3 separate regions of the Homo sapiens genome follow, and regions 2 and 3 are each linked to region 1. Evidence: fine-mapped expression QTL. A gene starts in region 1. Each other region holds a variant in brackets. All regions are shown on one strand. Distances are from middle to middle.

Region 1 (4,230 bases):
CCACTAAAACCAGGCATTTCTGCCACTGTGGGAGACTATACTTATAAACATTACCTTTAACTCTTCAGTTTAGTAGTACCTGGTAAATACAGGTAACACAGACATGCTGAACTCAAAGGTGAGTGGGTATCAGGACACATTTGGGACAGGTCCAGATGTTGGTGTTCAGAATCCCTCTCTACCGTCTACTGGGCCAGTGCCTTTGGATAATGGGCTCTGTGTCTCCCCATCAAACCTCAGAACTCCTCATTTGTAAGACAGGAGAGGCCGGTGTGGTGGCTCATGCCTGTAATCCTAACACTTTGGGAGGCCGAGGCAGGCGAATCACCTGAGGTCAGGAGTTCGAAACCAGCCTGGGCAACATGGTGAAACCCCATCTCTACTAAAAATACAAAAAAAAAATTAGCCGGGCATGGTGACGGGCGCCTGTAATCCCAACTACTCAGGAGGCTGAGGCAGAAGAATTGCTTGAACCTGGGGGGCGGAGGTTGCAGTGAGCCAAGATTGCACCACTGCACTCCAGCCTGGGCGACAGAGCAATACTCCGTCTCAAAAACAAAAACAACAAAAAACAAAACCCTGTAGTGGGTGACTTGAAGGGATACTGTTGGCTGAATGAAGTGAGTGAAGTGACCTGAATTTCAGCAACAGCAAGTCAAGGTCCTTTTGTGTGCAGCAATGAAACAGTGCTTCTCAGAGTGTGGTCCTGGACCAGCATCACCAGCCACGCCTGGGAAGTTATTAGAAAATCCGAATCTCAGGCCCTTCCCCTAGGCCCACTGTAACAGAAATTCATTGGGGAGGCCCAGCACTTTGTGTTCCAACAAGCTCTTCAGGGAATGCTGATGCACACTCAGGTTTGAGAACCACTGGCATAGACTGATCTGAGTTCTCAAGGCTTAAACCAACCATCCCCAGGAAGCAGACCCAGGGAAGAGCCAGTAAGAAAGCAAAGGGAGGCTTCAGTAACCTCCTTTCAACCAGTTTCAGTGGGAAGACAGTGTTAGCTCTCTCACCACTGGACTTTAATTTTGAATCCCGTGCTGGGTCTGGAATAAGAAAGGAGGGCAGCAAAACACTTCCTAGCTCTCCGCAAAATGCCAAGATGGACTCCTGAAGGCCAAGAACCGTGTCCAATACATCTGTGAGTCTGTGGTGCCCAGCCCAAGGCCTGGCAACCAGAGGCATCAGGAAAGGTGGGAGTAACTGCCCCAGGCGGGAAGAATAAGCAGCCCTTCCTAAGAGTGTGGGTCCTAAGGACTGAACAAGGTGACTCTCTCCCTCAATCCCAAACACACAATGATGTTAGCTCCCGAACCAGAAAGGGCAAGGACTTTGAGGGGCTGACTCTAGCTAGCTGCCCCAAGCCCCACAACTGCCAAGCAGAAGGGAACTGAGGCCCCAGATCACTCCCTTACTCCACCTCCCCACTTGCCCAAAAACCCAAGCTTGCCAGAGGTCATGTCCGCAGATCACATTCACCCTTGCCAGAGGTCAGGGCCCCCGGCCCTTGGCGGCGGGCCAGAAGCGTGACTTGGCCTGCTGGAATGCATGCCCCTAAACATCTCTAGACTAGTGGCAGTGTCCGCCAACCATGGAGGCCCTCCATCACCATCCCTGCAGCATCACCACCCTCCAACCCCCATGTCCCACCCTGGCGCTTCCATACCTGTAGTAAGAGAGCAAACCATTGCCCAGCACGAACCAGCGGCGCTGGTAGCCCTTCAGATAGTTGGTCCACTTGAGAAGCCAGCCCTCGAAGCTGTCCAGAGGCAGTAAGGCCAGTGGGGCACTGGAGGTCGTGCCAGTCCCCGACATTGGAACCCCAAGAGGAGTCTTCGCCTGTCCTGGTCGCAGAAGAGGCAGGGGCTTTAACGCTGGCAGCGATCCTGACTCGGGTCTGAGAAAGGTCGCGCTCCCCACCGCCCGGGAGAGCGGCTCCGATGCGGCCTTAGTGAAGGGCCCAGCCCCTACACCTGAGCTTGACTCTGACCCCGGCCGCGACCCCTGCAGCAGTTCCGATGGCTGCCCAGCCCCTGGCTCCGGCTCAGACGTCGTCTCGGACACAGGTTCCGATCTTGGCACTGCCTCCGAAACTGCCTCCGACACCTGTTCTGACAGCGGTCCCCGCTCCGGTTCGGGCACGGGCTGGGGCTGGGGCTTGGGCTCCGGCCCGGAGCCGGACGTGGAAGCGCTCATGCCCGGCGCCGCCGTGTGGCACGACAGGCAGGGGACAACCGTGAACAGCGACGAGAGCCCGCGGGAGCGGCCGCCACAGCCGCCGCCTCGGCTCGGAGCCGCCGCTTTCCCCATAGAGCCGGCCGACCCGCGCGCGGCCGAGCGGCCAGTGGGGGCGGGGGGCAGGCCGGGGGCGGGGCCGGGGGCGCAGTCACGTGCGCGCGGCGCGAGGCGGGGGCGCGCGCGGGTTCCTCCGCGGTCCCGTGCGCTCCGTGCCCGTCAGCGCCCGCCGGCTGTTGTGCTCTCGGCCAGCCTCGGGCCATGTTTGGACCCTGGGTCCTTCCTAGGTCCGGCCGGTGGAAGGAGCTCTGACAACACCTGTGGGCGGAAGAGCTTGGTGGTCGGTCAACTCCGAAGGGGATGGCGCGCTTCAGGCCACGGTCTCTGCTTCGGCCCAGCCGTGCCAGGCGCTGGAGGAACAATGATGAATGCGGAGCCCGCCAGCTCCCAGCGCAGCTCTGCCCACGGGACCCTGCGCCGACGCCCCCTCCCCCAACCCAGGCTGGGGTGGGTTCGCTCTCCGCCACCCAGGAAAGCCGGGTGGGAAGCAGGTACGGCACCCAGAGGCCACGAAATGCGCACGAAGCACAGGGGCGCTAAAGGCTAAAGACGACGCCCCGCCCCCCATGGCAGCCATTACCTGTCTGTGGGTCGCTCCTGCGGCCGCCAGAAGCGGTGGCCCCAAGTGGCCGCCTCACCGCCTCCACCTCCTGAGCCAGCTGGCCTACGGTTCATGCCAAGGCGCTTCGCTGCCAGTGACGACATCGTTCGGGTTCTCTAAACAAATAGGGGAAGACTTTTTGTAAACCAAGCGTTTTAGTACAAGAAACATCTCAAAGTGGGATTCTGAACTTGGACCTCCCGGGATCCCTGGGTAGGCTGGCAGTCTGTGAGGCTTCCGCAGAGGTTTACCTGTCTGTGCATTTTTCCAGAGTAGGTCCATAACAAAGGAGGCTGTGACCCCAGAATGGTTAAAACATCAGCGAATTTTTTTTTCCGCTTTTTTTTTTTTTCCTTTTTGAGACTGAGTCTCACTCGGTAGCCCAGGCTGGAATGCAGTGGCGTGATCTTGGTTCACTGCAGCCTCCGCTTCCCAGGTTCAAGCGATTCTCCTGCCTTGGCCTCCCTAGTAGCTGGAATTCCACGGCCCGCACCATGCCCAGCTAAATTTTGTATTTTTAGTAGAAACGGGGTTTCACCATGTTGGTCAGGCTGGTCTTGAACTCCTGACCTCAGGCCAGGATCCTCCCGCCTCGGCCTCCCAAAGTGCTAGGATTACAGGCGTGAGCCACTGTGCCCAGCCATCAGTGATTTTTTTTTTTTCTTAAGAATCTATCCAAATGACGAAAGTTGATGGTTACTACAAATAATCAGAAATACAAATGGAAAGACTGAACATTGGGTTTCTGTCCAGACTTTTCAAGCTTAGACCTCTCTGCAGACTCCTCTTAGCTCACCATCACGTCTTACTCTCCCCTTACCCACCTATCCATTCCTGATCTTTGCTTGTGACAAGATAACCTGTGTAGGGACTGCTTCCTACGTGAAGTGGTCCCCAGAAGGAAGCAGATTGGAAGGTCCTAGAAATAGGAGGTGCAGACATGCACTGAGCAGGAGCCGCTGGCATCTTTGCTGGTGACTTTGAGACCCCTTCCTCAGGCACTTGTCTTTGAATGGTGGTCTTACCTGCAATTTTGCTGTGAGCTCTGGAGTGCAGAGAGCCCCCCATCTTGGTCTATCTCATATGTATGACGGTGACCCTCAAACTTCAGCATGGTGAGTCCCCCCAAGGAAAAGTGATTGCCTCTGGGGTGTAGTGGGGGACAGAACTGGACAACTGAGAAATGAGGTGGAATGCTTGCTTTTCACTCACACTTTGAACCTTTTGTATGTTTTACTGTGTATGTTTCACTGTGTGTATGTTTCACCGATTCAAAATAATGATGATAATTGTTAAAATCACCCCAGGGAGGTTTATTAGAAACACACTTT
Region 2 (4,000 bases), 180 kb before region 1:
GCAGCCAGCCTGTCCCTGTAGGAAGAGAGCTGCCTGCCCCAGCGCGCTGTGAAGGACACCCTCCATGTGGGCTTTGTCTGGCCAGCCATCCCTCATTTTAGGCTCCACTTCTACGATCCGGCTCAATCAGAGCCCACAAAGTGGAAAACACACAGCATTTCACGAGGAAGAGGGTCTGCCCTGTCCGAGGAGCCAGTGGCAGTAGAGATTTCCCTAATGCAGGCACGGGCGCTAGGGGATGCTAGGAGCATCCCCGCACACATCACAGTCAGGATGGGGCTGGGGAGTGGGATGGAGTTGCAGTGGGGCCCCCACAGTGGGAGAAGCAGCTCCCTCTCACTGTGAGATCGGAAGAGATTGGGGGTGATGATTTCTACCTTCTGGGGACTGCGGTGCGTGGCTTCCATATCCAAGTCCCTGGCTTCCCAGGAGGGGCCCTGGTGGGGCTGCAGCCATGGTGACCAGAGGATACCTTGAAGCTGAAAGGTAAGACACTCCAGGGACTCACGGAGATCTTTGAGGTTGGGATCCCGCCCAGGGTGCGGGTGAGGCTGCCCCGCATCCTGGCCTTGGTGTGTAGCCACAGCAGGAGGGGGCCTCTGCAACCCTCCAAGGAGGTCACCCTTACCTCTTTGAGGTAATGAGAGAATGAGGGCCATCACTTCTCTTGCAGGCCACACAGACCTGGGTTTGCATGTATCTTGGCATGGCCACCTACCAGCTGGGTTATGCTGGTGACTTCCCTGAGCCTCAGTTTCCACGTTGACACTAACAATCCCTCAAGGTGCTAACCAGGCTGTTGGAAGGGGTAAGTGGTCTGGTGCCTGAATAGGCTCCCTGGAGGTTTGGAGGTGGGAGCAGCATGGATGTTCTAGTTACAGAGCCCTGGTCCAACACCTTCTCCTAACAGGTACCAAAGCCAAGGCCTGGCCAAGGGTGGGAATGCCTGTATCCCACGACCTTCAGGCAAGTGGCCGGCTTTGCCTACATGGCTCCTCTGCACACAGTGGGGGCTGAACCCTTGGTGTCTGAGAGCCACGCAAACAGCCTTTCCAGAACTACCCCGGTTCCTGCCAGGCGAGGAGTGGCTGTCAGGAAGGGTCCCCAGGGGAAACACAAGCCTCTGGGCTAGCCTGGGCTACAAGCACAGTCTGTCGGGGCAGCACTGCACTCCTGCCCTCCCTGCCCCTGATTCAACAGCAGGAGCTTGGGGAGGGGCCCTCATGGCAGGCTAACACCAGCAGGTTTGGCAGAACCCAGCCCAGGGCACAGCTTCCGTCACTCAGGGCTGACTCTGCCGCCATGTTCCCCGGATGCTGGAGCTGCAGAAAGGAATCGTGACCAACCCCAGGGGGTTGTGCTTCTCATAAAACAATTCATTAGGCACTTAAACTTGGAGCTGTTCTGATGGCTTCGTAAACACAGATGAGCCTCTGATGTCTGATAAAAGACTGTGCAAGACGGCAGCCAGCTGAGACGCTCATTATCTCGGAAAAGCCAAAACTGCTTATTCAAGACAAAGCAGTTTTGGTCTCGGGTAGGGAGGCAGTGCCTGGGAAGCCTCCGGCAGTGGCTTCTGGGAGGGACAGGGAAATACAAACGCATTATTATGTCATTCAGTGCTTCACATTTGTGTGTGTCCCTGGTAGAAGTACAGCAATCTGGTCTGTGGGCTGTAAGGAGGACAGTGGGCCTGAGAGGGTGGATGTAGGAAAACAGTGCAGGTGACAATGGGGCCAACACGCAGGGTGGCCCAGCAGCCTCTCAGCATCCTTGGCAT[A/G]TGGGGCCAACTGCCCCCCACCCCCCAGCACTGTGGGATCTGGGATGGACAAGGTGCACACACCTGCTGAGCTGAGGCGGGTGGGCACCTGCAGGCTGAGTTTCCCAGCAGTCGGGAAGGGGGGCACACCTCGCCCAGCCTCAGGCCCCAGGGTGGGATTCCCAAGGCTGCATTTGGGTGCTCCAGGCCTGAGCCTGAGCATATCTGGGCAGGTGTGGGTGGTGGGGTGGCCCTCCTGCCCCACAATCATGCTGCCAACAGGCCAGTGAAGCCGGCTTGGGGCAGGTCTTGGATGCCCAGGTTTTAGCCTGGGCTCTTGGCCTGCGGTGAGCTCCAGCCTCTATCTTCCCACCCTGCCCTTGCATTTCTTGCGGGGCCTGGAGCTTGGTCCCAGCTCCCAGTCCGGCCCTGGTCTAACCTCCTAGTTTGGGGGCTGGGTCCCCCAGCTGGAGGTCACCCAGGCACCAGCACTGCCCACTGTCCCCAGCCAGCACGATGACTCTCCTGAACCCCCTTCTCTGGACCTCACTTCTTCCTCTGCGGCCTCCATTTCTGTACAGCTCCTCTGCTCTGGTCTCCTTACTCCCAGCAGGCCACCCCAAGCTCCTACAACTGCACCCCTGGCCCAGATGTGCCGCCCTGGGGGACTGTCCTGGGAGGAGGCTGTTGCAGTCAGACCTGTGTCTGGAGGGTGGAGGCCTGGAGGAGCACGCACACTTCTGGGGAACACTCCCCAGACAGAAAGAGGGAAGCAGGGCCAAGCACTATCCTCCTACCACCATCGAGACACCCTCCTGGCTCCCAGTCCTAGCCGTGTGGCTTCCAGAGCCAGGGTGAGCGGCTGACTCCTGTGGCGGGGCTGCTTAGTTTACAACTGCGGTTACCTGCTTTGTCTACCATCAGGTTGGCACGACCTCGGCAGGCTCAGCTCTGAGGCCCTTCTAGCTCAGGGAGCCCTCGACTGCAGCCCCCCACCACACCCTCCCCTTGTTGTGCACAGCGTCTGCTCCCACTGCATCTGGGGAGTGAACCCAGGGAGGAGGAGTAGCAGCCACCGAGGGCCAGTGTGGCAGCTGTGTCCCTACTGTGTGGGCAGAACTGACCTGCTGGGCTAGCTACTTAACTTGGGGCCCCGACCTTCCTTATCGAGGCATGAAGTAAATAACTGCAGACTGCACCAGAGTCCACAACCAACTCGTTTCCTCCAGACAATTAGGAAGAATGTCCTTGCCCAACGACGGCCGAGTGAAGGAGATGATTTAAGAACTCGGAAGCTAGCTGGGGGGCGCTGGCTTTGGGAAACACCGTGGAACCGCAGGAAATGGAACGCTGACCCTTCAAGCTGACCCTGGTCACCCACCGAGGGACCCCGGGGCTGGAGCCAGGGAGCCCCGTGCCAGGGCGGTGGGGGTGGGTACTCACGTTGATCATAGCATTGGATGTGATGCGGAAGAGGGTGGCCCGCTCATTCACCACCTTCAGCTTCTCCCCACTCTCAGATGGGATCTTGAGGCCGTCCAGCTCTGTCAGGGAGCGCTGGAGTGCAGCGCCGTGCTTGGCGATGAGGTCATTGCACGTGCTGAGGTCATCTAACTTCAGGGAAAGATTCTTCAGGGTGTGGTGCAGCTCGCTCTTGTCGGCTGGGGTGGTAGCCTCGTCGTCGTCCCCAGAGTCATCTGTGGAAGAAAATAGAGTTGTTACGGTCATTACGAACAGACGTGGTACCAAGAGGCCTGCACAGCCAGGCCGAGCAGGGCAGGGTGGATAGCGCCATTCAAAAAACATCAGTCCCCGAGATGGTGCCCGTTCCTGTTCCTGGCCGGGGTGAGGTGCCTGCCCCATCCTGGCCCAGCCTTCCCAGGGTGGGGTGGGCAAGGGCCCACCTGAGTCAGTGGGAAGGACTGTAAAGAGAGCCCAGATTGAATGGCAGGGCCGGGACTGGGCTTTGGAGGCGGCAGGCCTACAGGCACCCACCTGCATGCAGGGCGCCAGCTCCCTACATTGTGGTGTGCAGGGAAGGATGGGCTCTGCTGGGTGGAGAGGTGGAGACTGCTCTCTGGGCACAGAGGCCCCCAGAATGGAGCCTGGGCTCCTTTCTCAGCATCGCAGGCCTACCCCAAGCCAATCACCCCCGTCCAGTCAACCTCACTTTGCTCTCTGCTCATGCCCATCCCCCAGCCACACCAATCTGTCCCCTGTTCCCTGCAAAGGCCTGAGCGC
Region 3 (4,000 bases), 23 kb before region 1:
GTCTTGAACTCCTGGCCTCAAGCTATCCTGGCTCTGGCTCAGTGACTTTTTTTTTTTTTCTTTTTTTTTTGAGACAGAGTCTCACTTTGTTGCCCAGGATAGAGTGCAGTGGTGCCATCTCAGCTCACTGCAACCTCTGCCTCCTTGGTTCAAGCAATTCTCATGCCACAGCCTTCCAAGTAGCTGGGATTACCGGGGTGCGCCACCACTCCCGGCTTATTTTGTATCTTTGGTAGAGATGGGATTTTGCCATGTTGGCCAGGCTGGTCTCAAACTCCTGGCCTTAAGTGATCCACTCACCTTGGCCTCCCAAAGTGCTGGGATTACAGGTGTGAGCCACTGTGCCTGGCCTTGGTGACTTTTAAGTTCCTTACCTAGAGATTCTTCTGCCACCACACCAGGCAACTTTTCCAGGGCCCTGGAAAATCTAATCAGCTTCCCATTCATGGCACATCTCTGCAGTGTGTGGCTGGCTATCAGTTACTGAACACTGATTTACTGTGGGCTGGGACTTCTGGGAGGGAACAGACAAAACATGAGCTACTGGTCCTGCCACACAGCTGCACATGCACACATAATGACACACACTGCCACCGAGCACAAACTAAGGCTGAAAGAGAAGGGGAGTGAGGAGGGCAGCAGCCTGAAGCCAGGGATAATGTTGAGAGGACTGCGAGGCACTCAGGTAAGTACAGGCTGGAGAGAAGGCACAGCGGGAATCAGCTCAAGGTTAAGAACACTCTAATCCCGTCTCTAGAAGGCAAAGGCTCAGTAAGCTGACAGATAAATTCAAACTCAGAAGAACTGCAGGATTCAAAAGAAGAAAATTGCTTCCATGCCTGTATCTAGCAAAATAATTTTATTTTCTGAAAATAAAAAATTCAAAGAAGGTGCCTTTCTTGTCACAGTGCATGAACAACTCAGCAAAAAGTCCCCACTCAGTCTGCCCGCAAGGCTCCCAAGTCTGAGAACCAGAACACACCATCAGCCCTGTTCCCATGCTGCCCCAGGGCTCAGGAGCAAGGGCCCAGGCCATTTCTGCAACAAATCTGTTAGTACTGGCAGGGGGAAAAAAAAGGGGGAGACAAGCACCCGGATGTTGTCACTGCAACTCCGAAGTTGTAAAGTTGCAACTCCAACAGCAGTGCCCAGGGCCTGTGGCCCCAGGGGCAGGAAGGCCAGTGAACACCTGAGGCCCAGCTAAAGCATCCCCCATTCTTTCCCTACCAGGTCAGTCACCAGATTCCTGGCCTCCTGGACTCAGATCTCCAAGCCATTAAGTCAACAGACATTTCCCGAGTCCTTTGATGTGCCAAGCCCAGTGCCAAGCATACAGGTCATCTTTTATATCTCATCTCTCCTCCTCCTCCTTCCAGATGGTTTCCCATCAAATTTTCAGAAAGGTAAGGATAGAAAGAACCCCAGACATCACCTAGCCTAGTCCTCTCACTCTATAGATAAAGAGGCTAAAGGATGTGATCGTTAGAAGGGAGGTTAGAGGCTGTGACAGACTGAAGCATTTCTCCTGTTTCTTTCTGCCATCCCTGAACTACAATTTTAAGTGCACAACTTTTGCCACTGGACTTTGTAGGATCCTCTAAAATGGGGAATGGATATCTTCCCACCCTACTGATATTGGACAGGGCCACATGCCTTGATTCAGCCAATGGAATGTGGAATGGAGTGAGGGTGTGCAGGCTCAAGCTGGGATGCTGTGACTCTCGATTACCCTCCTGTACTTCTGCCATCACAACAGGAAGACACACCTCCTAGCTTACTCCCAAGTGCCACTGCCTGAAGGAGACCTGGCCTGGTCATCTGCGGACCCTCAAGCAAGAGAAAACCACTGCTGCTTTAACCTCAGAGTTTAAATCACCACTGGGCAATGTGTTTTGAAGTTGCTTGATCCAGGAGGACAGGTGAGCTGAGGACTCGATTCTAACTCCCGCCCACCCTCGCCTGTCAGAATGCACACACAACCCATTGTCACTGAGGTGTCAGAGTAGAGCAAGGGATCAGCAGGAGATGATGATGCTGGAGAGGCAGAGATGAGGCCAGTCCTGAGGGGGAGTCATGTTGGCACATATTTGAGATGAATAGAAGATGAATAAGGAGACTCTAAGTGTCAAAATAAGAGTCTCAACCAGCAATCTTTGTCATCAACCTAAGGATCTGCTTTTGACTTCCATCTGCTTTCTTACAGGCTATGGCAATCATTCTTTTTGTAAGTACAGGGCTTTATAGCTAGTGAGCAAAGCCTAGAGATGTGAGAAGGGACTCTAGAGGTCCACTTTCCTGGATGTAACTTCCCATCTGGTCCTGGATGGCACAGCTGCAGCTGGACAGTAAAACATGTGTCATTTCCCCTTAGTGTAGG[C/T]GTTTTTCAAAAGGCCTTGATTTTTTCCCTGTGTCAAATGATCTTTGGCAAGGATGCCAAGATGACTCAGTGGGGGAAAGGACAGTCTCTTCAACAAATGATGTTGAAAAAACTGGATGTCCTTGTGCAAAAGAATGAAGTTAGACCCTTATCTCACACCATATGCAAAAATTAACTCAAAATGGATTAAAGACCCAGCAAGGTGCAGTGGCTCTTGCCTATAATCCCAGCTACTTGGGAGGCTGAGGTAGGAGAATCACTTGAGGCCAGGAGTTCAAGATCAGCCTGAGCAACATAGCGAGACCCTGTCTCTACACACACACACACACACACACACACACACACACACACACACAAAAACAGTAAAATTAAAACAAAATAGATTTAAATGCCTAAATGTAACATCTGTACAACTCCTAGAGAAAACCATAGGCATAAAGTTTCATGACATTGGATTTGGCAATGATTTCTTGGATATGACACCAAAAGCACAGGCAACAAAAGCAAAAACAGACAAATGGGACTCCATCGAAGGACACAACTTAAGTTCCTTGAAGGACACAATCAACAAAGTAAAAAGGAAACTTATGGAATAGGAGAAAATATTTGCTAATCATATATCTGACAGTGGGTTAATGTCTAGAATGTAAGAAGAACTTCTACAACTCAACAACAAAAATCAAATAAATGATTAAAAAATGAGCAAAGGGGCTAGGCATGGTGGCTCACACCTGTAATCCCAGCATTTTGGGAAGCTGAGGCGGGCAGATCACTTGAGGTCAGGAGTTCGAGACCAGCCTGGCCAACATGGTGAAATCCCATCTCTACAAAAATACAAAAAATTAGCCAGGCGTGGTGGTGGGCACCTGTAATCCCAGCTACTCAGAAGGCTGAGGCAGGAGAATTGCTTGAACCTGGGAGGCGGAGGTTGCAGTGAGCCGAGATTGAGCCATTGCACTCCAGCCCGGGCAACCATGTGAGACTCTGTCTCAAAAAAACAAAAAACAAAACAAAACAAAAAAACAAACAAACAAAAAAAGGATTTGAACAGACATTTCTCTAAAGATGTTATACAAACGATCAACAAGCATATGAAAAGATGCTCAGCCAGGTGTGGTGGCTTATGCCTGTAGTCCCAGCACTTTGGGAGGCTGAAACAGGCAGATCACCTGAGGTCAGGAGTTCAAGACCAGCCTGGCCAACATGGCAAAACCCCATCTCTACTAAAAGTACAAAAATTAGCTGGGTGTGGTGGCAGGCACCTGTAATCACAGCTACTCAGGAGGCTGAGGCAGAAGAATCACTTGAACCCAGGAGGTGGAGGTTGCAGTGAGCCGAGACCATGCCATTGCACTCCAGCCTGGGCGACAAGAGCGAGATTCTGTCTCAAAAAAAAAAAAAAGAAAGAAAGAAAGAAAGAAAAGATGCTTGTGGTTGGGCATGGTGGCACAGGCCTGTAATCCCGATACTTCGGGAGGCTGAGGTGGGATACTTTGGGAGGCTGAGGTGGGAGGATCACTTGAGCCCAGGAATTCGAGACCAGCTTGGATAACACTGCAAGATCCTGTGTTAAAAAAAAAAAAAAAAAAAGGTTAGGTGTGGTGGCTCATGCTTATAATCCCA

Evidence for each region. PIP is the estimated chance that this variant, and not a neighbour inherited with it, causes the effect.
Region 2: its variant is fine-mapped to the expression of OSBP2 in whole blood (INTERVAL, PIP above 0.99).
Region 3: its variant is fine-mapped to the expression of OSBP2 in fibroblasts (GTEx, PIP above 0.99). The same link has a PIP of 0.9 or more in adrenal gland, neural progenitor cells and spleen.

Annotation. Positions count from the first base shown.
Region 1 is chr22:30,692,993-30,697,222 of GRCh38, reverse strand. OSBP2 (oxysterol binding protein 2) reads right to left here and starts at 2,349. Exons shown (of 14, transcript NM_030758.4): 1 at 1,670-2,349. The coding sequence starts at 2,313. RefSeq lists silencers at 2,163-2,212, 2,597-2,676.
Region 2 is chr22:30,869,885-30,873,884 of GRCh38, reverse strand. It overlaps OSBP2 (oxysterol binding protein 2), which reads right to left. Exons shown (of 14, transcript NM_030758.4): 3 at 3,203-3,456. LOC105372994 (a long non-coding RNA gene) reads left to right here. Exons shown (of 3, transcript XR_007068062.1): 2 at 674-808; 3 at 911-995. Among named protein-coding and RNA genes, the nearest start is that of MORC2-AS1, 50 kb to the left of the region's middle. RefSeq lists an enhancer at 659-1,159. The variant A/G (reference allele first, on the strand shown) is at 1,781.
Region 3 is chr22:30,715,824-30,719,823 of GRCh38, reverse strand. All of the region lies in intron 1 of OSBP2 (oxysterol binding protein 2), which reads right to left. Among named protein-coding and RNA genes, the nearest start is that of MIR3200, 14 kb to the left of the region's middle. RefSeq lists an enhancer at 1,777-2,976. The variant C/T (reference allele first, on the strand shown) is at 2,378.